4 separate regions of the Homo sapiens genome follow, and all the other regions are reported to be linked to region 2. The links are microRNA targets in miRTarBase. Many come from high-throughput screens and were not tested one by one. Region 2 holds a microRNA gene; each other region holds the end of a gene's coding sequence.
What was found. Region 2 holds the annotated microRNA hsa-miR-6845-5p (CGGGGCCAGAGCAGAGAGC, at 3,739-3,757, opposite strand). A microRNA usually pairs through its seed, bases 2 to 8, with sites in the 3' UTR of a target mRNA and lowers its output. Matches are read on the target gene's strand: a 7mer-m8 pairs with bases 2 to 8, a 7mer-A1 pairs with bases 2 to 7 and ends in A, and an 8mer does both.

Region 1: miRTarBase lists CTXN1 as a target of hsa-miR-6845-5p. Seed matches in the 3' UTR shown: 7mer-m8 at 2,030-2,036 and 7mer-A1 at 2,395-2,401.
Region 3: miRTarBase lists ALDH6A1 as a target of hsa-miR-6845-5p. The part of its 3' UTR that is shown has no 7-base or 8-base seed match.
Region 4: miRTarBase lists TMEM254 as a target of hsa-miR-6845-5p. Seed matches in the 3' UTR shown: 7mer-m8 at 3,182-3,188.

What each region holds. Positions count from the first base shown.
Region 1 is chr19:7,921,969-7,927,062 of GRCh38, reverse strand. CTXN1 (cortexin 1) reads left to right here and starts at 928. Exons shown (of 2, transcript NM_206833.4): 1 at 928-1,096; 2 at 1,505-2,572. The coding sequence starts at 1,525. The coding sequence ends at 1,773. It overlaps SNAPC2 (small nuclear RNA activating complex polypeptide 2), which reads right to left. Exons shown (of 5, transcript NM_003083.4): 4 at 4,716-5,028; 5 at 3,813-4,618. The coding sequence ends at 4,299. It overlaps LOC124904629 (a long non-coding RNA gene), which reads right to left and starts at 1,658. Exons shown (of 2, transcript XR_007067120.1): 1 at 1,227-1,658; 2 at 253-490. TIMM44 (translocase of inner mitochondrial membrane 44) reads left to right here. Exons shown (of 13, transcript NM_006351.4): 13 at 1-345. RefSeq lists enhancers at 1-247, 4,895-5,094 and silencers at 744-1,013, 1,544-1,633.
Region 2 is chr8:143,834,055-143,841,709 of GRCh38, forward strand. It overlaps MIR6845 (microRNA 6845), which reads right to left and starts at 3,762; the gene lies at 3,702-3,762. NRBP2 (nuclear receptor binding protein 2) reads right to left here and starts at 6,919. Exons shown (of 18, transcript NM_178564.4): 1 at 6,652-6,919; 2 at 6,053-6,175; 3 at 5,875-5,976; 4 at 5,682-5,771; 5 at 5,455-5,495; 6 at 5,260-5,354; 7 at 5,118-5,141; 8 at 4,963-5,046; 9 at 4,829-4,884; 10 at 4,626-4,721; 11 at 3,569-3,701; 12 at 3,353-3,455; 13 at 3,195-3,245; 14 at 2,985-3,120; 4 more. The coding sequence starts at 6,780. The coding sequence ends at 1,608. RefSeq lists enhancers at 2,767-3,494, 6,806-7,536, 7,537-7,655 and a silencer at 6,821-7,380.
Region 3 is chr14:74,053,767-74,060,952 of GRCh38, reverse strand. It overlaps ALDH6A1 (aldehyde dehydrogenase 6 family member A1), which reads left to right. Exons shown (of 12, transcript NM_005589.4): 12 at 207-4,106. The coding sequence ends at 311. It overlaps BBOF1 (basal body orientation factor 1), which reads right to left. Exons shown (of 12, transcript NM_025057.3): 9 at 5,268-5,369; 10 at 3,973-4,047; 11 at 3,695-3,809. Among named protein-coding and RNA genes, the nearest start is that of ALDH6A1, 27 kb to the left of the region's middle.
Region 4 is chr10:80,088,412-80,096,066 of GRCh38, forward strand. TMEM254 (transmembrane protein 254) reads left to right here. Exons shown (of 4, transcript NM_025125.4): 4 at 2,386-4,140. The coding sequence ends at 2,506. Among named protein-coding and RNA genes, the nearest start is that of TMEM254-AS1, 13 kb to the left of the region's middle.

The DNA.
Region 1 (5,094 bases), not on the chromosome of region 2:
ACGGCTGCAAGACCAGCTGGCCCGGGAGGGGACAACGGGCTGTTGCGGGTGCGCGGCAGCTGGAGACACTCCCCCGCAGGGCCAACCCCTGCCCTGTTGCTCTGCCCTGCAGGGGTCCCGGCGCCTGGTCACCTGGGGTGCACACAGGTCACACAGTGCCAAGAGGCCCCAGGGCCCAGGGACTCCCCCCACAGCAGGGTGGGACCCGGGACCCGCGGCTCAGTGGCCCGCTAGCCACGTCAGCCAAGCCACTTTAGGTCCATTTTTTAATTTTAACAGTGCTCTTCCATCTTGTGCATAAGCCTGAGATTTGGAAAGAATAAAACACCGAATTGCAGAAGAGCAGCTACGGAGTCTGAAGTGTCTTCTCTGGCGCGGGAGTGGCCGAGGCGATGGTGGGGGTGGGAGCAGGCGGCTGCTGTGGGAGGCGGTCAAGGTCGAGTGAGGAACTGCAGCCGCAGTGGGTGGACGCCTTGCCCAGGGCTGGACCCTGAGTTGGAAGACGAGGCCAGTGACAGACAAAACTAGGGGGACTTACTCATCCCAGTGACCTGCCTGAGCTCTCTGAGAATTGAGGTCCCCAGGGCCGGGGGAGCTTGAGTGCCCATATGAGTGTTTTAGGGCCACTGAGGTCCCCCCACAAACAGGGAGTCTCGAGTGGGGTCTATCGCGGAGGAGAATGCAGGCACAGGGCAGGCTGGGGGGCCCGAAGTGCCAGGGGAGGTGGGAGTGGCAGCTGCCCACTCCCCGGCGAGGTCGTGGGTGCTCGCGGGTCCTCGGGGCTGGGGTTCCGTCCTCCCGCAGGCCCGGGCGGGGTCGCTGGCTCGCGCGCCGCTCCCTGCGCAGCCTCCGCCCCCTGCAGCCCCGCCCCCCGCGGCGGCCCCGCCCCCGTCGCCATAGGAACAGCCGCGGCGGCCCGGCTCGCGCGCTGCTTGCCTGCCTCGGTCTCCGCCGCTCCAGGGGCGGGTGGGGTGGGCTGAGCCGGAGCCCGGGCCGCCGCCGCCGCCGCCGGGGAGAGGCCGAACGCGCAGCCGGCGCGGGTCCCTGAGAGAGCGCGGCCGCCGGGCGGTCGGTCCCCGTCCGGGTCGAAGCCAGGGTGAGGGGCGCGCCGGGGCGGGGGCGGTGGGGGAGGGGGTCCCAGGCCGCCGAGAACAAAGGGAGCGGGGGCAGGGGCCGCGGGGACCGTCCCCACGCCGCGCGCCCGGGCCGCGGCCGCGCTTTCGCACCTGTTGTGTGCGGCCCAGGCCGGGCGCGGCTCCGTTTCCCGGCTCTCAGCGCCCCCACCTGCGCGCACGGCCAGAGTTGGGTCCCCGCGTGGTGGTGGCGGCGATCCGGCGGGCCGGGCATGGGCGTAGCCCGGGGACCGAGGCGCGGGCGGGGGATGGGGTCGGGCACGTTAAGGGAGGCGGCGGCGGCGGCGGCAGGAGGGGGCGAAGCGGAGGAGGCGCGGGAGGGAGGGCGCAGCCTCATCCCCGGCGCCCGGGGCGGGTCCCCTCCTCCGCAGGGCGCGCGGCGATGTGAGCCATGAGCGCGACGTGGACGCTGTCGCCGGAGCCCCTGCCGCCGTCGACGGGGCCCCCGGTGGGCGCGGGCCTGGACGCGGAGCAGCGCACGGTGTTCGCCTTCGTGCTCTGCCTGCTCGTGGTGCTGGTGCTGTTGATGGTGCGCTGCGTGCGCATCCTGCTCGACCCCTACAGCCGCATGCCCGCCTCGTCCTGGACCGACCACAAGGAGGCGCTCGAGCGCGGGCAGTTCGACTACGCGTTGGTGTGAGGGGCGCGGCGCCCCCTAGCCGGCCCTGCGCCGGGGTCTCAGAGGGCCGGCCCGGCGGGGGGCGCCGCGGGGCCAGGACTGCGCTCAGGATCCCGCCCCGGAGCCCCCAGCCCGGGGGAGAGGGGGAGGGAGTTGGGAGAAGCCCAGCCCCTCCCCCTCGAGACCCCTCCCATGTCCCTTCCTGGCCTGGCCGGAGCCCCACCTCGTGCCTTTATCCGCCCTGTCCCTTCCTCTCTGCGCATCTCACCCGCCCGGCTGGCCCCCACCCCCGACTCTGAATCCCGGGCGGGAGGAGGACCCCCGCACCGCCCCCTCCCCAGCGTGTAAGTGGCTCTGCTATTGTGCGTCCCTGGAAGTGGGGACCCCCTTGTCCCTCCTCCCTCCCCTGTTGTCTGGCCGTCGTCAACCCCACCTTGACTGAGTGTTGAGCCCGTCCTTGGGCTCTGGTCCCTGCGGGGCAGGCTCTCCCGGGCCCACGGGGCGGACGCTGCATACCAATTTGCCCTGCACCGCCTGTCCCGGAGACGGAGCCCGAAGGCCTGCCATGGCGGCTGTGTCGAGGATGCGTGGCGCCTGCCGTGGCGGGACAGCGTGGGCAGGCTCATTTCTGCCCCCAACCCGGGCCCCAGGACAGGTCAGCGCGCCCTGCCCCGGTGCCCACCGCTGCCCCCCATCCGCCCTCCTGCCACTTGCCCCTGACCCCCCTGCCGTGCCTCCCGCAGCCCTCCCATGCCGTTCCACTCCTCCCTGCCTCTGAGCCGAACATGATAATAAAAGCTATTATTGAGCGCTTACTGCATGCCAAGTAGCGTGCTGAGTTGGCACCTCCTGTTTATAGCCTGTCTCCTCTTCGGGATCGTGAGAATGAGCCAGGCCCTGTTAGCATCCCTATTCTACAGGCCAGGAGACCGAGGGCCAGGCAGCTCCAGTGACTGACTTGCCCACAGTCACATGGCTAGAGTCTGGTAGGGCTGGAAGTGGAACCCAGGTCTGGCTTTTGCATGTTTTTAAAGCTTCCCAGGGCTGCAAAGACACCAAGATCACAAGCACCTTTCACCGGCTTTGGGGGGGGGGGCTGATGTGTAACCCCCAGCTGCCTCCCCTCCACACACAATTCTGTTGATCTGGGGAGGCGCCGGGGGTGGTGAGAGAGACTCAGCCCTGTGGGGAACTGGGAGGCGCACCCTCTGCCAGCCCTGGAGGGAGGCTCCGACGACCGACCGTACCTGCAGCCTAAGCCTCCTCCCCCTGCCCACCACCATTGGCAGCGTTTGTGGGTCTGGTGCGGTGGGGCGGTGACCACGGACGGAGTGGGCTGGCTGTGCTCCAAGGCCCTCCCAAGAGATGTGCACCCCAGGGGAGCCGTGTGCAGTGTGTGGGGGGAGGAATGAGCGTTTCTATAAAAGGCAGGCTGGGTGAATGCACAGGCTCCGAGAACGGAGAATTTACCGACTTGGATTACTAGCTGGGCGTGGGACGCGGTGCCGTGGGAGGACATCTGCTTCCCTCTCTAGGACCCGACCCTCGGTCCACACCCACAGGGCAGGTGAAGCTGATGGAGGGGGCCTCAAGCGGGGTCCCAGCACCCCCAGGGGTTTGGGGTCAGCCCTGACTCCAGTACCCCTCCCTCCCCGCCTTCTAGGGATCCTTGAGGTCCCAAAGCCACCCCAGGGGACACTCCACTCCCACTAGCCTCCTGCCACTCGGGGCAGCCCACCCCTATCTATCTTCCTCTAACCGCCCAGCCTGGGGCTCAACTCCTTCCACCGGGTCACCCCCACTCTCTGCTGCCTTCTCCCCTCCACCTGTGCGATGTGATTTTGCCCTACTCTGAAACCCATCCCTGACGCCTGTCCCCAAGGTGCCCTGCCGGCTCTCCCCATCCACACTTGTCAGCTTCACAGTCACCAAGGGGCTCCTCACCCCAGGCCTCATCACACCAGTCAGGTGGCAGCTCTCCTCCCTGGCACACACCCCCAGCCCTGTGACCCCCAAGCTCTGACACTTCAGGGCCCCCACTTCCATCTTTAAGTCACAGGTGAAAGAGAAAGAGAATGATAACTTTATTCATGGTCACAGAATACCCCCGGGAAGGGGAAGGACCTGGCAGCAGGGAGTAACCACGACTGGTCAGTTGAAGAAGGTGAGGATGCTGGCCCCGAGGTGTACAGGAAGGGGGAAAATGTGCGAGGGCCTTTACGGTGGGCAGTGCCAGCTATGGCCCCCCAGCAGACAACAAGGCACAGTGGGGCTTGGGGACTGGGGGAGGCCAGCCCTGTCCGCCTGTCCTTGACATCAGGAGGCTTGTGAGTGGAGTCCTGCAACCCCCACCCAACCCCTGTACAACGGGGGTTCCATTTCTGAGACCCCCAAAGTATGGGGCATCTTAGAGGCCCGCCCCACAGCTGAGCATCATCTCAAGGACCTTCCCCCATGACGGGATCCTCAGAAAGAGCCAGGGCCAGCCGAGCAGAACCGAGGGGCAGGGCGGGGGGCCTGGTGTGGCCTCCTGCCCGCCATGCCCCTCACCTGGCAGGGGTGGCTGCCCGACCCAGAAGCTCCAGGGGCACCAGGAACGGGTTCAGGGGACAGATCCCAGCTGCTTGCCAAGGCGATTTCAGTTCGCTGTGCTCGGCCTTCTCGGTGGCTGGGGGGGTCTCCTCTGGTGCCTTGGAGCCAGCCCCATCCCCTTCTGCTGCAGGCCCCAGGCTCCCTCCAGCGGGAATGGGCTGGGGGGCTGTCAGGCGTAGGTACGTCTCCGTCATATGCTCAACCAGGGCTGTGCAGGGCAGGAGTGGCAGCTCCTCTGGAAGTGACATGAGCAGGTCGAGGACCACAGCGGACTCTAGTGATGGATGGAGGAGAGGGGTAAGGGGACACCCCTGCCTGCTGCCAGGGACCCTTGATCCCTCTGCTCCTGCCCCCTCCCTCACCCTTCTCACCAGCTGCTGAGAGCTCGGGGCTGCGGCCACTTCGGGAGACAGAGGACAAGTACTTGTAGATCTTCTCAAAGTCCACAGCAAAGTCTTCTTCAGTGGAGGGACCAGCCGACGACTCAGAAGGTTTCTCAGGGGCAGGGTCAGGAGTCCTGGGTGCGGAGCTAGGTGCAGCAGGGGCAGAGCTAGGTATTTCAGGGGCGGGGTCTTCCTGTCCTCCAGGGGCGCTCAGGAGCAAAGGCTTTCCACGGGCCTGCGTGGGCTTGGGGGGCTTGGAGTGCAGGAGGGTGACCGGTTCCGTGGCCGCGATGGTGAGCACCTGGCAGGCAGAACAATCAGGGAGGAAGAGGAGCTGGGAAGTCTTCTCACCGTCTACACATTCCCC
Region 2 (7,655 bases):
AACAAAAGAGGTTCATTCCTTAATCCCTGGAACCAGTGAATGTTAGTTTACATGGCAAAATGTGTCCTGCAGATGTGTTTAATATTAAAAACCTTGAGGAGGGAGATTATCATGTATTATCTGGCTGGGCCCAACCTAATCTCATGAGTCCTTAGGGACAACCTTTCCTGTCTGCAGGGAACCAGAGAAATGGTTCGTGACACAGACTGAACCTGCTAGCTCTGAAGATGGAGGAGGGGGCCAAGAGCCAAGGAATGTAGGCAGCCTCTACAAGCTGGAAGTGGCCTTAGTTTACAGTCAGCAAGAAAGTGGGGACCTTGGCCCTGCCACCGAAAGGATGTGGATTCTGCCAGCAGCCTGAAGGAGCAGGAGACAGAGTCTCCCCTAGAACCTCCAGGAAGGAAGGCAGCCTGCCAGCCTTGATTCTAGTCCAGTGAGACCCATAGTCAGACTTCCAGCCTACAGAATTGCAATAAATTTGTGTTAAGTCACTAAGTTTGTGGTAAATTTTACAGCGGCAGTATAAAACTAATACAGTGGTGTGCCTTCCTGGTTGACATTTGAAATGCGTTTAGAAAGGCATGAATGCGCTAATGTATACATACAGTTTAAAATGCTTAAGGCCATTTCACTAAGTTTGGAATTGGAGGAGAGGCAAGCCAAGAATCAAGAGGCCAGGAAGGCAGGGGTAGAATCCATGAGGGCATAGAAATCTCTAAGACTGAGCCAGGAGTGGAGTGGGAGAGAGGCAGGGAGCCAGGAGCTGACATCCTCAGAGGCCCAGGGAGCAGCTGCCCCAGGGAGGAGGTGCGGGAGGTAACATGGAGGGGCTGTGAGTCTGAGGAGCAGGGAGGATGTGGGGTCCCTGACGCCTCCAGGCCAGGGAATGCATGAGAGAAAAAGCCCATTGGAGGGGCTGCAGTGGCCAGAGGAGATCTGCAGAGGGGCTGCAAGTTCTGGTCTCAGGGTGGGTAAAGGGTCAAAGAGGTGGCTCTAGGGCAGAGCTGTGTGGGACCAGGGGCTTTGCTGACAACAGCCTCAACTCCAGACCTCTCTGTGGTCTGTTTCTCCTGCCAGGTCCCTGTTGTGCCCAGTGCCATGCCTGACACCTGCAGGTGTGTCACCGCTGGCTTGCTGTGCAGGCTCCTTGTGTGGGTCTATGGTGCCAGCAGGGGATGGCTGCTCTCCCAGACCCCATGGAGCAGTTCCCTGGGCAGAGGTCTGTCCAGGGCTGACCCTCACCCCCAAGCCCCAGAGCTGGGGTTCCCTACAGGGCAGCCTCCTGCATGCTGAGGAGGCAGTGGCCCCGGCCAGGCAGCCTGGGTAGGAACTCAGGGCGGAGAATGGAGGATATGGGAAGGGGTTCTGGGGGCAACCCTGATCCTAAGGACCTGGGAGGCCTAACGGCTCCCCCACACCCACCCCCCAACCCCTCGGCGCCCAAGGCAGGGTCAGCCCCACTCTCAGGAGACGGGGGGTTCCTTCACTACCGGGGCCTTTGTGCTCCCAGGCGCATGGAGGAGGGCAGCCCCACGGTGCTGGAGTCTCCCCAACATGGCCTGCCCAGGCAGCACCCCGGCATGGTCCCCTGGGGCTGGGGCTCCGGGTCAGGCCTGGGTCCCACGGTACTTGAGGAAGGTGCTCTCCAGGAAGGCGGCCAGCTTCATCCGGTCGTCCTGCGGAAGGAGGGAGGCATGGGGGACGGAGGGGCGCGGCCTGCCCCGTGCGCCCCCTCCGCCAGGCCGCGCCGCACCGCCCAGCGCACCTCGTGGAGGAAGCCATAGTGCACGAGCTCCGAGGCGAGGTCCTGGGCGCTGTCCGCTGAGGCAATGGCGTAAGGCGAGGCATGAGGCCGCTGCCCACCCGCCGCCTGGGGTCACCGCCCGCCGCCCAAGTCCCCTGCCCAGCCTACTTGGGAGCAGGTCGTAGGTCAGCTGCCGGTGCAGCCGGTCTTCCAGCACCAGAAGCAGAGTGAGCTGGGGAGGCGGCGGGGCGTGGTCGGCTGGGGGTTCAGGGCTCCGCCACGCTCCCGCCTTCCCCACGGCAGCGCCGCCCTCCCAGGCCCCGCTCACATGCCAGCGCGCCTTGTCCTCGCTTCTCTCCAGGTTGCACTGCATCTGGATGACCTGCAGCGGGGGAAGGCTGGGACTCACAAACCCAGCAGCAAGACCACATGCCGCGGCCCCAAAGGGGCCGGGAAGGGACAGCAAAGACTGGAAAGGGGGGAATCTCTAAGAGGAGCCCATCTCACTGCTAGTGGCTTGGCAAGCTAAGGAAAGCTTCGAGAAGAGTCGACATTAGGGGCTGGGTACTGAAGGCTGAATAGGAGCTTTCACCGCGGAGAGAACAACTTGAACAAAGAGGGAACTGTGGGCGTGGGGAAAGGGAGGTTGGGCGGGACAGGACCGCGCCGAAGTGCACGGTGCCTGCGGGATCAGGCCTCCCAGAGCCTGGGTGTCAGCTGAGGACTCCCATGATCTCTGCTGGCAGCCAGGAGCAGGCAGTTTGCCTGTTAGGACATGAATTCTGGCTGCACTGCACCGAGAGAGGCCCCTGGCCAGGAGGGGGTGCTGCAGGAAAAGTCTGGGGAGACACCAGGACATAGATGTCCGGGAATCAGCACCAGGTGGGGGATGGGAGGGGTGGGGGGGGTGGGAGGGGTGCGGGGGTGGGGGAAGATTGCTGGCAGGGTGGAAGAGCCCGGGTGAGTTCTGGAGGAAGGATGCTTGGAGTAGGTTCAGGGCAGGCAGCAGGATGCAGGGGAAGGATCTGAGGGGACAGGGAGCCTCCCGGAAAAGGAGAGTGCCCAGCCTGTCCTATAACCCCCATGACCCCCACAAGGGGGTCAGCCTGGATCTGGTCTCTGGCAGCCAGGAGGAGAGCTGGGCTGTGGGGATGCAGGCCCTAAGAGAAGGAGGGGCACCTCTTATCTGGCTGTTAGAAGGTCTGAGGGATGGCACTGAGCAGCAGGAGAGGGGACTCACCTTTCTGGTCTCAGAGTCAAAGGGCTCTGGCGTCGGGGTCTTGGCCTTTTGGACCTCCTCCGGGGGTGGGGCCAGCACACGGGGCAGCCCCAGGGGTCGAGTGGCTGCAAAGTTCATCAGTGGGTAGATTCCATTCCTGGGGACACAACAGGGTGGCTGGGGGTTCAGGCCTGACAGCTGCCTGGCCCCCAACCTTACATCAGTTCTCACCTGACATCCTCCAGGAATTTGTCCAGCTCCATGAAGGAGACTTCCGAGTACCTGGCATGGAAGTGGGAGGCACATGAGGGGCTGGCCGGGGCGAGGGGAGGGGAGGTGCGGGGAGGGGAGGTGTGGGGAGGGGAGGCTTCTGGGTGCTGACTGCTCACCGCCACTGCAGCGGGGGCCTGCGGGGCCGGGGAAGCTCCGCCAAGACCGCGTGCAGGTCCATGGCCTTGGTCTTCTCCTCCACCACATTCTCAGGCATGAGGTCTGCGGCCACAAGAGCATCAAGGCGGTGTGCTCAGGCCGTGGGTCCTGCAGGGCCCCTTCCACGTCCCAACCTCCACCTCCCCAGCCACCCCCCGGGCCGGCCTGCTGCTCACACTGGTGCTGGATGAAGCAGTGGGCTGCCAGGAGCTTCAGCGAGTGCACCTCGAAGAGCACGCGGTGGAAGAGGAGGCTGTGGGCAGAGGGCCGGCGGGCAGGGTCCCGGGCCAGGCAGCAAAGGATGAACTCCTGGGGCACAGGGAGGAGAGGCTGGTGGTGTGCAAGGGCTCTCTGCTCTGGCCCCGCAGTTCGAGGAGAGGTGGCCCCTGAGTTCCCCATGTCCCTCCTCAGGGACACACAGGACATGCAGGGATGCCCATAGGGAGGAGTCCCAGCAGCAGCAGCCAGGCCAGGACCTGGTCCTCTGAGCTTGAGGACAGCTGGGTTCTGGGATTGGAGCACCATGCTCTGCTTCCCTCGACCCCCAAAAAATCGTGGGGAGAAGCCATGATCCTAAAGTCACACCTGCAAGCCTCCTACCCATGGCCTTTTGATCGGCTCAGCTCGGGCCCAACACTGGAGACGACCTTGATGGGTCCCCACTCTGTCCACATCCGTGCCCAGCCCGGCTCCAGCTCGCCACCAGCCCCGACCAGGCACCCCCATCTCCTGAGGCCATGGAGTTAAGTCTAGACTCCGAGCAGAGGGGGCTGTGGATGCAGCTTCCATCCCATACCTCTTTTTGCCTGCTTGGCACCCACCATGTCCCCCCACAAGCTGGAGCCTCATCACCTCCTGGAAGCTTAAAGTCAAGGACTTGGAGTGAAGCAGACCCAGGTGCAGATGTTGGCTCCACCACTCACTCTAAAGCCTTGGGCAAAGGACTCATCTCCTCTGAACCTTGGTTTCTTTATAAAACGGGCATGGTGATGGCAGCCACAGAGGGAGGGTCTCTCTTGCCTTCTTGTCCTTAGAATGTGCTGACCCCTTAGGGCCTTCAGGCCTGGAACCAGTATGTGCTCCCACTGAGGTCCTCTTTGGGAGGGGTGCAGTCAGCTGGTATACCCCTCAACTGCACAAACTGTGATGTTCTCCCAGGTCTGCCTGGAGCACCTTGCTAGCCCTAGCTGAGCACGGTGAGCCAGCTGGGGAGGGGCAGGGCAAGCTGCTTACCCGCATGTTGGGGTCACTCAGCGAGTGCCTGGCGCGAGCAATGGCCTCCTCTGTGACCCGGGTGTCCCCATTGGTCTGGATTTCCAGTACAGCCATCTGGGGCACAGAGCCAGGTCAGGCATGGGGAAGGGACCACACAGGTGAGCCAGGCAGGGCACAGTTAGGAGGAGGGCAGAGCACAAGGTGGAGGGCGGGGGCAGTACCTCCAGCGCACACATCCCAAAGGAGAAGATGTCCACAGCGGTCCCATCGGCCACCTCTGAACAGAAGAGAGCACAGGACACGTAGGAGAGAAGCGCAGGGTAGGCACGGGGCACCCGGACCCAGCACCACTCACCTCCATACTCTGGGGGGAAGAAGTGCAGGTTCCGAAGTTCCTCTCGCTCAGCGCGGATGGGGCTTCGGAGATCATCTGGAAGTGCTGTGGGAGGGCGCAGAGCTGAGCGGGCGGGGACCTCTCCAGGACCCCGTCCCCCCAAAGTCCGCACTTACCATTGGAGAAGATTCGGTGCCACACTGCCAAGGGGCGGGAGAAAGAGTGGAGTTAGCTGCTGGGGCATCAGAACTCCTCTGCCCTTGGCTCCAGGCACCTTCCCCTGCCCCGTTCCCCCACCCAGCCCTGCCCCGCCAGCACCGGAGCCGATCTTGATGAGGCCGTTGTGCTGAATGAAGATGGTGTCGCTGGTCAGGTTCCCGTGGATGATTGGGGGGCTGCAGGCGTGCAGGAAGCTGCAGACGTTGGGGAGGGGAGAGTAGGAGGAGCCGGTCAGGAGGCTCTGGAGAGATGGGGGCTCGGTGGCGCCGCGCCCAGGCCAGCCCAGGCCCTCACCTGAGCGCAGACAGGATCTGCGTGCACCAGCGCTTCCAGGCCTGGCGGCGGACGCACGACTCCGTCGGTCGGGTGGGCGCAGGAGAGGCGGCTGGGCCTGCGGAGCCCGCCCCGCATCCTCGCCCAGCCCCTGTCCGAGGCCGCCGGGCACCCCCTCACCATCCCAGTCCCCGAGGCTGCCCCAACCCCGTCCTGTCCCCGTGGCTGCCCCAGCCCGCTCCCCATACCCGGGCGTTCATGGCCTTGTGGTTCTTCTTGGTCTTTTTGAGGAATTGCTTGAGGCTGCCTGATGACACGTACTCTGTGATGAAGATGACCTGCACGGTGCGAGCTCAGGATTTCCACCAGCTGCGGGTTCGTCCCCATGCCCGCCCCACCTAGCTGTGGTCTCTGCCTGCCCGGGGCCTTGCCCGTGCTCACCCTCGCGCAGGCCTCAGAGGTATCCAGCCAGTACTTGTGCAACTTCACGATGTTCGGGTGGTCCACCAGCACCAGCTGCTCGAACACGGTCTGGATCTTCTCCTGGGGAGGGAGGGTGGTCGCTGGGTGGTCAGCAGGTGGTCACCCAAGCAGGATGAGGAGGGGGCAGCGGTCTCACCTCGTGCGCCGCGAAGGCCTTCCTGTCTCCGAAGTGGAGCTCGTTCCACACCACCTCTACCCCCTCCTCCGTGTCCATGGCTAGGAAGGTGCTCTGAAGCCCTGGCATGTTCCCTTGGTTTACCTGGGGGTGAATAAAGGGTTATGTGTGCCCTGGTGTGTGTCAGGGTTGTGGGTGAGGATTTGGTCCCTGTCCACACCTTTCCAGTGGGCCCAAGCGTGGGCTGCAGGCCCTGAGCCACTCTGCGGGAAGGTGGGGCTTGGAGGGTAGCTGCCCCCAGGAGCCAAGGGCTCCTATCCAAGGGCTGGGCTAAGGGGATTTGGAGCAGGTTTCAGGGGGTCGAGGGGGATCCCCAGGAAGCTAGCGGCTGAGTCCAGAGGCATGGGGAGGTGGTCCTGGGAGGAGACTGGCCCTCAGGGAGTCCCAGGGCGAGCGCCAGGCCAAAGGGGTCCAGGGGTGGCTGATTCGCGGGCCGCGAGGGGCCGCGGAGAGGTTTCCAGCCGCCGCGCTCTCCCAGCGCCCCCACGCCCCGCGCAGCCTCCAGGCCCCTCCCGCTCTGGGAGGGCGGTGTCACCCCGTGCCCCAACCCCCGCGCCCACCTGCTCCCGTCGCTTTTGCCAGCGACCACACGGGCTTTCCTCCAGGATGTCGCTCTCGTCCTCGCTCTCGTCCTCCCGCTCCCGCTCCCGTTCCCGGGCCCGCCTCGGCGCCGGCTCCGGGGCCGCCATGGTTCGGCCAGCCCAGGCCACCGCCCTCTGCGCGATCCGCCGCCGGCGCAGCCTCTCCCGGCCCGCCCTGGCCTCGCGCCCAGCAGCCCAGCCTAGAGCCGCCGCGGCAGCCTAGAGCCCCAGCCCCGGCTCTGGGAATTGGGAGGCGCGGGCGCGCGGCGGACGGGCGGGGCCCGGGGGCGGAGCCGGCGCGCACCTCCCGAGCCGCCTGTGCCTGCCGGAGCCAGAGCAGAGCTTCCCCGAGAGCTGCCGAGCCCGGGCCGCGCCCAGGCCCCGCCCCCCCGGAGGCCCCGCCCCGCGAAGCCCCGCCCCAGTCCCTGTTTCCTCCTCGTCTCCCAGGCCTGCTCCGCGAAGCCCCTCCCCAGGCCCTGTCCCCTCCTCGTCCTCCAAGCCTCCTTCGCGAAGCCCCGCCCCAGGACCCGCCCCACCCCCGCGAATCCCCGCCCCGTTTTAGTCCCCGCCCCCGCCCGTTCCCAGGGTCCTCCGCGAAGCCCCACCCCAGGCCCCGCCTCACCTCCTCGAAGCCCCGCCCCTATGAGGCCCCGCCCCGCGCAGAGGAACCGCCCCCAAATCCCCGCCCCCTCGGAGGCCCCGCCCTGCGGACACCTGGAGCCCGGAGCGCCCACTTCTCTCGCGGTTGCTCCCCTAGGATCTGGGGGAAGACCCGGGGCATCTGGGGGCCCCCAAGCCCACGGCACCCTCCAGCTGCAGAAGACCCCGCGGGCTCGAAAGCGGGACCCGCTCTCCTGGCCACGCACTCATTCCCCGGCCGACCCCCAAGGGACAGGTCGAAGGGGCACCGAGGGCGGGGGAAAGGCCCACCAGCAGGCTGACCCAGGCTGACTTTGATCGGTGACCACGAATCTCTCCCTGGC
Region 3 (7,186 bases), not on the chromosome of region 2:
GCTAAGGTTTGATTGTTTACTATCTGCCAGGTATTATGTTAAATGTTTTAGATCAATTATCTTAGGAACAATATATATTGGATTCTGATTGCATTTCTCAATTAGGAAAGTGAGTAGCACTTTATAATACCTCCTTCAAAAGCTAATTAAAAGAAGAATCATGAAACCCCAGAAATATATGCTAACTTTTTTTCTGTTTTCCTTAGGGCATCCAATTCTACACTCAGTTAAAGACCATTACTTCTCAGTGGAAAGAAGAAGATGCTACTCTTTCCTCACCTGCTGTTGTCATGCCTACCATGGGCCGTTAGAAACAAGTTTGTTTAAGACTGACTCCATCCTGAGTAATCTCCCTTTATTTTTGACCAGCTTCATTTGTCAGCTTTGCTCAGATCAGATCGATGGGATTGGAATACATTGTAACTAAAATCTTCCTCAGGACTATTAACCCCCGCAAAGTTTCTATAGGGAACTGCCTAGTGTAACAATGAAACCAGATTTCTCACTTGCTCTTCATACTTCTATTTTGAGGTAACTGTTGTAACTATGAAATGCTTATCTGAAAGTAGTGCTTAAACCTGATTTCTAAAAATTATCCCATTTTCTGATGATTTGAAGGGGAGAAAAGCCAGTGTATGTAAAGAAAATGTTCCAGCCAGGCGCGGTGGCTCACGCCTGTAATTCCATCATTTTGGGAGGCCACAGTGGGCAGATTGCTTGAGCCCAGGAGTTGAAGAACGTGGCGAAACCCCGTATCTATTATTTAAAAAAATTGAAAAAGTAAAAAAAGAAAAGGGAAAAAAAATTTTTTAAAGAAGATGTTCCAATAATTGCAAGAAGAACTCTTAGATGGGGAAACAGGACAGAAATAACTCACCGCTTTTGGTTGATCCTCAAACATAGCGCTACCTAAATGCCACTGGGAGAGACCTCCTGCAAAGTTTTCTTTAGCCCCTCTTTTATCCCACAATACACAAGATATAATCCATTTTTATATATCCCAAAGTTGTGGCAACAGCTTCTTTCTTTTCTGCTCAATGCCACTTTGTTTCCTAGTAATTCATGACCACTATTAATTCTATCATTGTCACTGCTCCTGCTTAAGATCACTTCTCAAGGATACCTCAGTAAGCAATGGATAAATCAACTTTTTGTTATATGTGCCAAGTACTAAGTTTCAGGGTTCTCTTCAGCAATCATTAATTAATACTTCAGCCATTAATTCAGATGCAAATAATTTTCTTTTTTCTTTTTTTTGAGATGGAGTTTCACTCTTGTTGCCCAGGCTGGAGTGCAATGGCGTGATCTCAGCTCACCGCAACCTCCGCCTCCCAGGTTCAAGCGATTCTCCTGCCTCAGCCCCCCTAGTAGCTGGGATTACAGGCATGCGCCACCACACCCAGCTAATTTTGTATTTTTAGTAGAGACGGGGTTTCTCCGTGTTGGTCAGGCTGGTCTCGAACTCCTGACCTCAGGTGATCCGCCTGCCTCGGCCTCCCAAAGTGCTGGGATTACAGGCATGAGCCACCACACCCAGCCAGATGCAAATAATTTTCTTAGAAAATTATTTCAAAAGTTATTTTAGGCCCAGAAATCAAGGATTGTTCCAACCATGAAAATGGGTAAGACACCTGCCTTAAGCAAATCTAACCTGCTATTACTTGCCAAATTTTATATATTCTTTTCTCTTGCCTGTATTTCTAATTAGTGATTTGTTTAATGAAGAACTCTTCATGTAGAGCAATTAACTGGGCCTAAGAAATTTCGAAGCTTTCCATGACATAAAGTGGTTAAAAAAAAATGCTTTGACAGTCTTCTTCTGCCATTAGTTCAACTGCCTTTACGCTTTTTTTTTTTTTTTTTTTTTTGAGATGGAGTTTCACTCTTGTTGCCCAGGCTAGAGTGCAATGGCGTGATCTTGGCTCACTGCAACCTCTGCCTCCCGGGTTCAAGCAATTCTCCTGCCTCAGCCTCCTGAGTAGCTGGGATTTCAGGCATACGCCACCATGCCTGGCTAATTTTGTATTTTTAGTAGAGACAGGGTTTCTCCATGTTGGTCAGGCTGGTCTCGAACTCCCGACCTCAGGTGATCTGCCTGCCTTGGCCTCCCAAAGTGCTGGGATTACAGGTGTGAGCCACCACCCCCAGCCGCCTCTATGCTTTTTGTTTCTTTGATATATCTAAACTTAAGGTCAGAACAGAAATTCATGTGCTGAACAGAATGGATTCTTTTTGCAGTACCAATCCAATTGAATCCTCTTTTTATTTTCCTGCGTCCTTACCAGTCACTTTGATAGTGCTAACTAACCTACACTATGGGGGTTATTCATGAATTAAGTATGATAAAAAAAAAAAAGACCTTGAAAATGTTGTGTACCCTGTGGATTTGAGGCTTATTACTACCACCTGGCTGGATAAAATGTCAAAACCTTCAATCACTTAAGGTGACTGGAACTTTTGTAAAATACACTTATGATCCTACTGGGCCTTTTTTTTTTTTTTTTCTGCTTTCCTAAATATGAGGCAATAGAAATTTATAATTTGAGACTACAGTACCCCTTGTTTTAGCTCTTATCACAGCTGGCAACTGGTAGTGATTTTTTTTGTTGTTGTTTTGTTTTGTTTTGAGATGGAGTCTCGCTCTGTTGCCCAGGGTGGAGTGCAGTGGCACGATCTCGGCTCACTGCAACCTCCACCTCCTGGGTTCAAGTAATTCTCCTGCCTCAGTCTCCCGAGTAGCTGGGATTACAGGTGCATGCCCCCACACCCGGATAATTTTTTGTACTTTTAGTAGAGACAGGGTTTCACCATGTTAGCCAGGATGGTCTCAATCTCCTGACCTAATGATCCGCCCACCTCGGCCTCCCAAAGTGCTGGGATTACAGGCGTGAACCACCGCACCTGGCCCTGGTAGTGATATTTAATCCAATCCAACAACTATAGGCTGGGTTAAATAAAAGGTCATTATTGTCTATATTCCAAGTGGAATTAAATGTAGTCACAGAGATTCCTAACATTTTCCTTATATTTAAGGGAAATCACTTCTAAAAAAACACACTAATCAGAACTGTGATGCTCTAATTAGAAACAACTCATCTGGCCAACTATTTGCTGCTCAGAGTTTCTTATTTCTTAGATGAAAAAAACTCATCAGTTATATTCATGTGATCGCGGCTAAAAAGTCAGTATTTTCTTTTTGTTCTAATGTGGCTTCATTTGAAATTTCTCAGATTCTACATTGTACTAATTATGAATAACAAATTATAAATTAAAAACTCTTAAAGAGAAAAACTTGGCTTAAAAAAATCATTTCATATCTCCTTATAAGCCTTTGTCCTCTAGGTTGTAATGACTCTGACTTCCCACCTGTGATGGAAAGCTAAGAGTCACAAGGTCACTATGTTTACTCTTACGTAAAAGATAGTACACATTTTGGCTAGGCTGTTTACTTCAAAAGGCAACCTATAGGTTTCTACACAAAAAGAGGCACACATTTGCATTTGCATTAGTATAATATGCATTTGTACGGATATTGCTTTAAAAATTTATGTAATCTACTAATGCTATTTATTACTCATTCCACTGATCCCTGAAGTCTCTCAACTAGTAGAGAAAATAACCGTGATTTAGCAAGAAGCGACATGGGGAAGGGTGACAACAATATACATTGTTTGATTAGATACAGACTCCTTACTGTGTCAGACTCCTGAGGTTCTTTTGGAATAGTGGGTAGCACCACTTCACCAGAAGAGTCTGATATTGCAATTTGCTGGGTGATGAAGATTTTATCTTGAAGCTTACTTTCATCCCTGCAATAATGACAAAATAACAGAACCGTCAACAACTCTACACACATGAAACCTGGTTTAGAATAACAGACTTGTCATATTACTTTCAATTAGCACATTCAAGATGCCCACAAGAACCATCGTGTTGGGCTCATGTTTATTACTTAAGCAAGAGAGCTCTTACCCAAATTCCTTTGTTTCCCCACTGTCAGAAACAACATAGTCTGGAACTGGAGGCCTAGAACTCTGGTTGTATTTCCTGTAGTGGGTAAAAGTCAACAAAGATAATGAATGAGGCAGTGTCTCCTCATGCCTTCATATTTTCTTTTTGTATTTTAATTTTTTTTTATTTTTTATTTTTGTGGGTGATAGTAGGTATACGTATTTGTGGGGTACGTGAGATGTTTTGATACAGGCATGCAATGTGAAATAATCACATCATAGAGAATGAAGTATCCATCCCTTCAAGTATTTATCCCTTGTGTTACAATCCAATTACACTCTTTTAGTTATTTTAAAATGTATAACTGGCCAGGGGCAGTGGCTCATGCCTGTAATCCCAGCACTTTGGGAAGCCGAGGTGAGTGGATCATCTGAGGTCAGGAGTTTGTGACCAGCCTGGCCAACATGGTGAAACCCTGTCTTTACTAAAAATACAAAATTAGGGCCGGGCACAGTGGCTCATGCCTGTAATCTCAGCACTTTAGGAGGCTGAGGCGGGCAGGTCACCTCAGGTCAGGAGTTCGAGACCAGCCTGGATAACATGGTAAAACTCCATCTCTACAAAAAAATACAAAAATTAGCCAGGCATGGTGGTGGCCCCTGTAATCCTAGCTACTCGGGAGGCTGAAGCACGAGAATCACTTGAACCAGGAGGCAGAGGTTGCAGTGAGCCGAGATTACATCACTGCACTCCAGCCTGGGCAACAGAATGAGACTCCTTCTCAAAAAAAAAAAAAAAAAAAATTAGCCGGGCGTTGTGGCACATGCCTGTAGTCCCAGCTACTCAGTAGGCTGAGGTGGGAGGATCACTTGCACCTGGGAAGTGGAGGTTATAGTGAGCTGTGATTGTGCCACTGCACTCTGGCCTGGGTGACAGAGTGAGACCCCATCTCAAAAAAAAAAAAAAATACTTATCTTTGCAAACCAATAAAATCTTAATATTGTTATGTTTCTCTTCAGTTGCCACTCATTCAGCTGAGCAATATTGTAACTTCTTAATAAGCACTACCTTAAACATCTAAGATGAATCTTTCCCCTCCCCCTTTAATTCCAACTCATCTTTCATTTTCATGCTCATTCATTAATCTCCCATTCTTTATCTCTGGGAGCTGCAGTAGTTAAGCAGTAGGGCCTTTTTATATTTTCTGGTCCTTTCCCGTCCCTTTAGTTCTAAGTAAGAAAAATAAGTTCTTTGTTCCTAAGTGGTTTCTAGATTTGATAACAACTTGGTATTTCACTGCAGAAATAGGGAGTTACCTAGAAGGACAGCCATTCATTTTTGCAAAGAGCAATCGCAATACTTTTTCCTTCTGCTCCCAGGTCAAATCTCCAATATCCACATTTCCTTCAATATGTGTCCTAAAGAATTTCAAAGGAAAAAAATGTGAAAAGGAAAAATACGGTCAAATAGGCTTCTCTTCTTTTTAAAAAATATATAATGGGTAAACATAGGATAAATTCCACACCATAATTGAATATTATGAAACAACTACAGGCCAGGCGCGGTGGCTCACACCTGTAATCCCAGCACTTTGGGAGGCCGAGGCGGGTGGATCATCTGAGGTCAGGAGTTCGAGACCAGCCTGGACAATGTGATGAAAGCTCGTCTCTACTAAAAATACAAAAATTAGCTGGGCATGGTGGCAGCTGTCTGTAATCCCAGCTACTCGGGAGGCTGAGGCAGGAGAATCGCTTGAACCCAGGAGGCGGAGGCTGCAGTAAGCTGAGATCGCGCCACTGTGCTCCAGCCTGGGAGAAAAGAGTGAAACTCCGTCTCAAAAAAAAAAAGAAAGAAAAAAAGAAAACTACAAAGCAAACTATCCATCACAAAATCATAAAGTTGATAAGGACAACAATATACTAGCCAATCCGAAATGTTACATATCATAAAGATGAAAATGACAAAAACTTTAACAACATGAAAAAATATTTGTGCTCAGACATTAAGGAAATAAGCAAAGTAGAAAACTCTAAGGAGGCTGGGGACGGTGGCTTACCCAACACTTTGGGAGGCCAAGGCGGGCAGATCACAGGTTAGGAGTTCGAGACCAGCCTGGCCAACATGGTGAAATGCCGTCTCTACTAAATATACAAAAATTAGCTGGGCATGGTGGCAGGCTCCTCTAATCCCAGCTACTCAGGAGGCCGAGGCAGGAGAATCGCTTGAACCTGGGAGATGGGAGGTTGCAGTGAGCCGAGATCACTCCACTGCATTCCAGACTGGGTGACAAAGCAAGACTCCTTCTCAAAAAAAAAAAAAAAAAGAGCCTGGGTGCGGTGGCTCACACCCGTAATCCCAGCACTTTGGGAGGCTGAGGCGGGAGGATCACAAGGTCAGGAGTTCGAGATCAGCCTGACCAAAATGGTGAAACCCCATCTCTACTAAAAATACAAAAATTAGCTGGGCATGGTGGTGGGCACCTGTAATCCCAGCTACTCAGGAGGCTGAGGCAGGAGAATCACTTGAACCTGGGAGGTGGAGGTTGCAGTGAGCTGAGATCGTGCCACTGCACTCCAGCCTTGGCAACAGAGCGAGACTCCGACTCAAAAAAAAAAACAACAAAAAAAACTGTAATGTAACATTATTTATTTAGAGACACAGACAAAGGGAACAAGAAAAAAAAAGTTGTTTAGGCCAGGTGCGGTGGCTCACACCCGTAATCCCAGTAATTTGGGAGGCCAAGGTGGGTGGTTCATGAGGTCAGGAGATCAAGACCATCCTGGCTAACATGGTGAAACGCTGTCTCTACTAAAAATACGAAAATTAGGCTGCGCGCAGTGGTTCACACCTGTAATACTAGCACTTTGGGAGGACGAGGCGGGCGGATCACGAGGTCAGGAGATCAAGACTACCCTGGCTAACATGGTGAAACTCTGTCTCTACTAAAAAATACAAAAAAATTAGCCGGGCATGGTGGCAGGAGCCTGTAGTCCCAGCTATTTGGGAGGCTGAGGCAGGAGAATGGCTTGAACCCTGGAGGCAGATCTTGCAGTGAGCCGAGATTGTGCCACTGCACTCCAGCCTGGGTGACAGAGCGAAGACTCTGTCTCAAAAAAAAGAAAATCAGCCAGACGTGGTGGCATGCACCTGTAGTCCCAGCTCCTCGGGAGGCTGAGGCAGGAGAATCGCTTAAACCCGGGAGGTGGAGGTTGCAGTGAGCCAAGATGGCATCATT
Region 4 (7,655 bases), not on the chromosome of region 2:
ATATTGGCATATTTCCATTATGTTTTTTTTCTTTTTTTTTTCCTTAAGGTCAGGAAAGCATCAAATATTTCTATTATTGAGTCTTCTAAATGATGAAATGATCTGTTTCCATTTATTTAGATCTCCTTTAATATATATATAATTTTTAAGAGGTTTTACACATTGTTGTTACATTAATTTCCAGCAACTTCTACTTTGAGATGTTATTATAAATGACTTTTTTTTAAAAAAAGATGGAGGGTCTCCAGGAGGCTGAGGCAGGAGAATGGCATGAACCCGGGAGGCCCCGGAGCTTGCAGTTAGCTGAGATCATGCCACTGCACTCCAGCCTGGGCGACAGAGCAAGACTCCGTCTCAAAAAAAAAAAAAAAAGATAGGGTATCATTATGTTGCCAAGGCTGATGTCAAACTCCTGGGCTCAAGCGATCCACCTGCGTCGGTCTCCCAAAGTGCTGGAATTACAGGCCTGAGCCACCACACCTGGCCAACTTTTGTTGTTGTTTTTGTTTTTGTTTTTTGAGATGGAGTCTAGCTCTGTCGCCCAGACTGGAGTTCAGTGGCATGATCTTGGCTCCCTTTGTTTCATTTCATTTTCTAATTGTCTGATGGTACTTTGTATGAATATAGTCAATTTTTTATATTGACCTTATACCCAGCAATCTTGCTAAATAAATTTATTAATTGTAACAGTTTATAGATTATTTTCAGTTTTTAGGTATAAAACTGTCCAGAAATACAGTTTTATTTCTTTCTTTCAATTCTGTATACCTTTTATTTATGTTTCTTCCCTTATTCTACTAGCTAGAACTTCCAGCAGTGCTGACTAGAAGTGTGCCTTGTTCTTGACCTCAAAGGAGAACTTTCAACATTTTGCATCATGTTTATTATAGAGTTTTGTAGATCTCCTGTGTCAAAATTAGGAAGTTCCATTGTATTTCTAACTTTGCTGAGAAGTTTTATTAAAAATGGATGTTGGATGTGGATGCAGGTGGCTCACACCTGTAATCCCAGCACTTCGGGAGGCTGAGGTGGGAGAATCAGTTGAAGCCAGGAGTTCAAGACCAGCCTGGGCAACAAAGCAAGACACTGTCTCTACAAAAAACAAACAAAAAACCTAGCCAGGCATGGTGGTGCGTGCCTGTGATGATCCCAGCTACTTGGGAAGCTAAGGTGGGAGGATAGCTTTAGCCCAGGAGTTTGAGGCTGCAGTGAGCTATAATTGTACCAGTACACTCCACTGTAGGTGACAGAGTGAGACCCCATCTCTGGGGGGGTTGGAAAAAGAATGGATGTTGAAATTTGTCAAATGCAGCCGGGCGTGGTGGCTCACGCCTGTAATACCAGCACTTTGGGAGGCCGAGGTGGGTGGATCACGAGGTCAAGAGATCGAGACCATCCTGGCTAACACAGTGAAACCCCATCTCTACTAAAGAAATACAAAAAATTAGCCAGGCGTGGTGGCGGGCTCCTGTAATCCCAGCTACTCGGGAGGCTGAGGCAGGAGAATGGCATCAACCCGGGAGGCAGAGCTTGCAGTGAGTCAAGATCGCGCCACTGCACTCCAGCCTGGGTGACAGAGCGAGACTCCATCTCAAAAAAAAAAAAAAAAAGAAATTTGTCAAATGCCACTTCTGCATTTATTAAGATATTCATATGATCTTTCTGTTTTAATCTGTTACTGTAGAAAATTATATTGCTTTTACATATATTGTTTTTAAAGTTTGTTTTAAATAAAAGTCATCCAAGTGAGACTTATTTATGTACAGATGAGACTGTAGCAAGCCATTCCCTTCCATTGGGTCATCTTTTTTTTGCACTTCATTTTAGGCAGTTGAATTTGAATGACAATATAAGCAGGTGTTTATCATGACTGTGTGCCAGGCTCCTTCCTGAGCATGTTGTGTGTATTATCCCATAAATCATCTCAACTGACTCAGTGAGATAGCTACTGCTGTTCCTGTTTTTCAGATGAGAAAACTGATTCTGAGAGATTCTGAGTGATTTGCCCAGGTCACAGCTGGTAGGTAGCCACGCTAGGATTTATATCTGGTCTATTTGCAAAACATTTGCTCTGAAACCATACCAGTGCTTTTTACTCCATCCGCTCATCAGAATCACATGAGAAACAGTCTTATAATACTGTGCCCTAGACAGTAGCCAGACTAGTTCTCAGGGAATAGTTTACCATCCAAAATACATTTGTTAGAAAACAAGAAAGATGAAAAATAAATGAACCATCCAAGATAAGCCAGAGAAAAGCAGCAAAATAAACCCAATGAAAGTAGTGGAAGGTATAATTTAAAAAATATATATATAGAAGACAATAACTCCCATGAAACTGTAAGATTAACATCTCGTGTTTAAATTTTGTTTTTTCTGTTTTAGGCATAAAGGCATCACAAGTGGTCGGGCTCAGCTACTCTGGTTCCTACAGACTTTCTTCTTTGGGATAGCGTCTCTCACCATCTTGATTGCTTACAAACGGAAGCGCCAAAAACAAACTTGAAGTTGTCTGAAAGCTTGCTCTACACTTTTACATTCATCCTCACCCTTTTTTTTGTGGGGTAGAGGAGGTGCAGTAATTTACTCAGTGATCTTTCTACTTTCTAGAAACTGTCCTTCAAAGCTCTTTAAGACCCCCTCGTTAGTCAGTTTTTTCTCTTATATGCTCTGGTTGAGCTTGAATAGACCAGTTGTTACTTAAGAAAGAAACAGAGAAAGATTTTAGCTTTTCAATCCTATTTGGCAGAGGACTTCAGCTACCTTCTTACAGTCTTTGGCTGTGTTGGTACCCTCGTGTGCTCTGAGCTAAGCCACATACTAAACTGACTTTTTGGTTTGTATACCCTTGCTCCCGCCTTCTGATGAAAACACCTTACCCTCACAACCACCATCTTTCCTCTCCTTTCCAAAGCTCTTTCCACCTTGCTGCACTAAGATAAAGTGACACTTCCACTATATGTCAATTCCACACACATTTATTAGGTACCTGTGAGGTAGGATCCTATCCTCTCAAACTTCCATTTCTCATGCTACAGAGAAAGATAAGGAAGATGAGCAAGTGCCTGGAATGGGGCAGGCTGAGCAGTCACACAGGCATAGAGGCACGCTGAGAACCTGGAGGGGAGACTGCAGAGTGCCTTCCCTGATGCTGCAGCCGGAAGTGATCCTTCCCTCCACCTGGCCCCTGGGACACTGTGCTCTGCAGTGTGCAGGGCCTGATGGCACTGCTAGATTGCTCCTTCAGCTCAGGGCCACAGCTTAAACAGCTTTACCTTTCCCCTCAGCACCTGTCCCACTATCTTGCACACAGGTGCTCTAACCATGTTTATTGAACAAAGGAGGGAAACTGATTTCACTTTCACTTGTTCATTATCATTCCAATTTTTATGTGAAAATGGCACAACCCATTTGGGGTACCCTCACCCCAAAATAAAAGCCCAAGTCTACCTTTGACTGGTACCACCTTTTTTGTGGTTTCGTTGGTGAGAAACCTTTATCTTTTTCATACCTTTCTATTCTCAATCACTTCTCCAAAAGTGTGTCTTTCCAGCTCTGATTTATTCAAAACACAAGCATTTCTGTTTAGAGATTCTAGCCCATGGGTTATCTGGCTAGTTATTACCTCTCCTGTTCACTTAGTTATACTTTATTATTGCTCACAGGCTGGGGAGGCAGAATGACTCTGTCACCACTAGGAGCCATTAGGGCTTCTTCCCTGGAGGACTGCCTGCTTGCTTTCTGGGGACACTAGCCCTCATTTCCCTTCTGTGGTACAGTGGGGCAAATTATTTGTATTAAGCAAACATTTATGGGAAACAACCCGCTCCCGAAAACGGAGCCCCCAAGTAAAGCACAACCCTGAAAGATTATGAACTATGAATTGTCTCTGGTAGAGATAAATTTCTGCAAACATATCTCAGTCTTCCCTCTGTTTCTCTGGTGATTAAGAAGTTCCTTTTTGGTAAGGAAAAGGATTTTTAACCATAGAGTTAGGCATCATGGAAATTCAAACCAGATTTCTTAATACCTGGTCTTCCTCAAAGAGAAATAATAACAGTAATAGTGGTGCTGGGAACAATATGGCAGATTATTGAATGAAATTGATTAACTTGAATAAAATGCTGTGAATTTTCTCTAGCTGAATGCTTTTCTTGTATTTGTCAGTTTTAACATATTGATGCACATTTGATACTTTTTCTCAAATAGACTACTAGGGAACTGTTTATACACTTCAGATATCAGTTTGTTTTTCACTGATAAAGAAATGCAAAACACTGTGGTTGTCGGGTATATACGTACTATATTTTAGAACTGTCCATGTCCCACTTACCTCCTCCACATACAAGGAATCACTAGGGTGGACCTGAGTGTCTCCTTTTCATTGTAGGATTGTCTCCTTTTTGTTTCTGTTTTTATTCAACATTTGATAAAGTCTATGCACTAAGTAAGGAGTGTTCTGGCATTTTTTTAAATGCATGAAGTCCGGTATGCATCACTTAACAATGGGGATGCCTTCTGAGAAATGCACTATTAGGTGAGTGCATTGTTGTGCAGATATCATAGGGTGTACTCACAAACCAAATGGTAGAGCCGACTACACACCTAGTTTATATGATACAGTCTGTTGCCCCTAGGCTACAAACCTGTACAGCATGTAGAGTAGTACTGAATACTGAAGGTAACTGTAACACAGTGGTAAGCATTTGTGTACTAGCTTTTCTTTAGGATGGGATTAAAAATATATATATATATATATATATATATATATATATATATATATTTTGGGAGGCTGAGGCAGGCAGATCACCTGAGGTAAGGAGTTCAAGACCAGCCTGGCCAACATGGTGAAACCCCGTCTCTACTAAAAATACAAAAATTAGCCAGTCATGGTGGCAGGTGTCTGTAATCCTAGCTACTCAGGAGGCTGAGGCAGGAGGCAGGAGAATTGCTTGAACCCAGGAGGCAGAGGTTGTAGTGAGCTGCGATTGTAGCATTTCACTCCAGCCTGGGCAACAGAGTGAGACTCCGTCTCAAGCAAAACAAAAAAAATAGCTAAACATAGAAAAGATACTGTAAAAATGTGTTCCAATCCTATGGAACCAGTGTCATATGTGCTGTCTGTGATTGATCAAAACGTCAATATGCAGCCGGGTGTGGTGGCTCACACCTGTAATCCCAGCACTTTGGGAGGCCGAGGCGGGCAGATCATGAGGTCAGGAGATCGAGACTATCCTGGCTAACATGGTGAAACCCCGTCTCTACTAAAAATACAAAAAATTAGCCGGGCATGGTGGCAGGCGCCTGTAGTCCCAGCTACTCGGGAGGCTGAGGCAGGAGAATGGCATGAACCCGGGAAGCGGAGCTTGCAGTGAGCCAAGATCATGCCACTGCACTCCAGCCTGGGCAACAGTGCAAGACTCCAACTCAAAAAGGTCAATACACAGGCACGCCTGTATAAAATCCTATCATCTTATTTGGAGTATTATCATGGCTTAGATGTAAAGGGGGATCTAGTGAGCAAATGATGCAGATCATTCCTTTCATAGACCCATAAACATCTCAGCGAGGTGAAGTAACTTACCCAATATCACACAGAGATGCATGATTCTGGGCCTCATGTTGCCACCTCCCCCATCACCCCTGAGTTTAGTAGTAAGTCTGTGAAGCAAAAAATTTAAAAATGGAGACATCTTGGCTTTGTGTGGTAGTCATGGTGGTGATATGCGAGAAAGAGCTTTATGTTGCATTTGGATGAGAAAAGGCCAGAGGCATCTTGGTGGAAGCAACCATGGAAAAAAAACAGACTAAACTGTTTTCTTACCCACCCCTTAGATTTCCAAAGCACGTATAGTTTGGAAAAATAAAAAGAAAGGACCAAAAAAAAAAAAAAAAAAACTAATGACCTCAGAACTTAATAGCAGGCCCAATTTATAAACTAACCGTGTTTCCTACATTCAACATGTTTATGGTTCCATGCAGTCTAAGCATGGTTTATGAGCCATGGTGTTAACATAAACCTGGGTTAGGTTTAAGAGGTTATATTCCAGATGTGTGAAGAGGCTTCTTTGCAAAACAGCTTGCCATCTCAGAGAGCCCTTATATCTTTACACTGAAGGTCTACAAACAAACACAAAAGAGAAGTCAGAGAACCTGCAGTTGAGGTCAGAGAACACAGTGCAATCAAATTTTTATCTTGCTAGGGCCCTTTCTGGAGTCTCATTAATTAAAGCTCTTAGTTTAGCAACCTGGTTGTGAGTATTTTTCCTTTCTTGTCAGCACAGTGAAAAAAAATGCTAGTAGGGTAGGTGGGTAATACCCTTGTAAGACCATGGAAACGTTCTCTCTGCCAGGCTCCTTGTCCGCAACAAATTGTGAATTATGTTTCTGTTTTCATCCACACTGGACAATAAGAGTCTTTAATGTTCACATTTCTCTTCTTCAAAAGGAGATTTGTGCTCCGAATCCCCAGTAAACATTTGAAAACCCTATTCAAAATACTGTATTTGCAATTTCTGTGAAACATTTTAAGATGGCTTCCAAGTTTTTATAAAGGATTATAAAAATGCCTCATTTCTATTTGTAGTAAGTCATAATGTTGGATTAAGGGAAATACTTTTGGTATACAATGAATACTGTTCAGTTACATTGGTGTGGGAAATGGAAAAGTAATTTTTAAAAGTAAGAAAGACAAATGCTGTTGAGGAAAATATTCATGAAATAACTTTTACTTACCTTTTCCTTGTATTAATACATTGCACAGGATGAATCGCTACTAAAATTGATGAAATCTTAACATTGTTATAAATAAGAGGAATAGCATCTATAATATAAGGTAGGGAACAGTTCCCTAAATCTCAAGCACATAGAGGCCACCTCCACAACTTTAATCATGTCTACACTCCATCTGAATTTATTATTTATTATTTAAAGCAATTCACTTTTTTTTCTTTAGACTGAGTCTTGCTGTATTGTCCAGGCTGGAGTTGAGTGGCGTGATCTCGGCTCACTGCAATCTCCACCTCCCAGGTTCAAGCGATTCTCCTGCCTCAGCCTCCCAAGTAACTGGGATTACAGGTGCCCATCACCATACCCGGCTAATTTTTGTATTTTTAGTAGAGATGGGTTTTCACCATGTTGGCCAGGCTGGTCTCAAACTCCTGACCTCAAATGATCTGCCGGCCTCAGCCTCCCAAAGTGTTGGGTTTACAGGCATGAGCCACTGCACCTGGCCAGAAATTCACTTAAAAAAAAAAATTCCTAAACAAGAATAACTATGAAGTCCCAGGCTTGGTTTGTTCATTATATTTTTTCTAATACGTACGAGAAGAAAGGATAATTATTACCTAAAATACCATGCATACTAGGGATACATTTGACACACTTAAAAATCAGAAAGTATTACCCTACTAGTTGAGGCTGAAGCATGGGATTTAACCTGGCTCTAGCCACAGGATTTTAGACAAGTTTGTTTCTGTACCTCAGTTTCATCATTAAAAGAATTGATGTTTTAGACATGAAGCCTTTGCCCATGCCTATGTCCTGAATGGTATTGCCCAGGTTTTCTTCTAGGATTTTTATGGTCCTAGGTCTTACGTTTAAGTCTTTGATCCATCTTGAGTTGATTTTTGTATAAGGTGTAAGGAAGGGGTCCA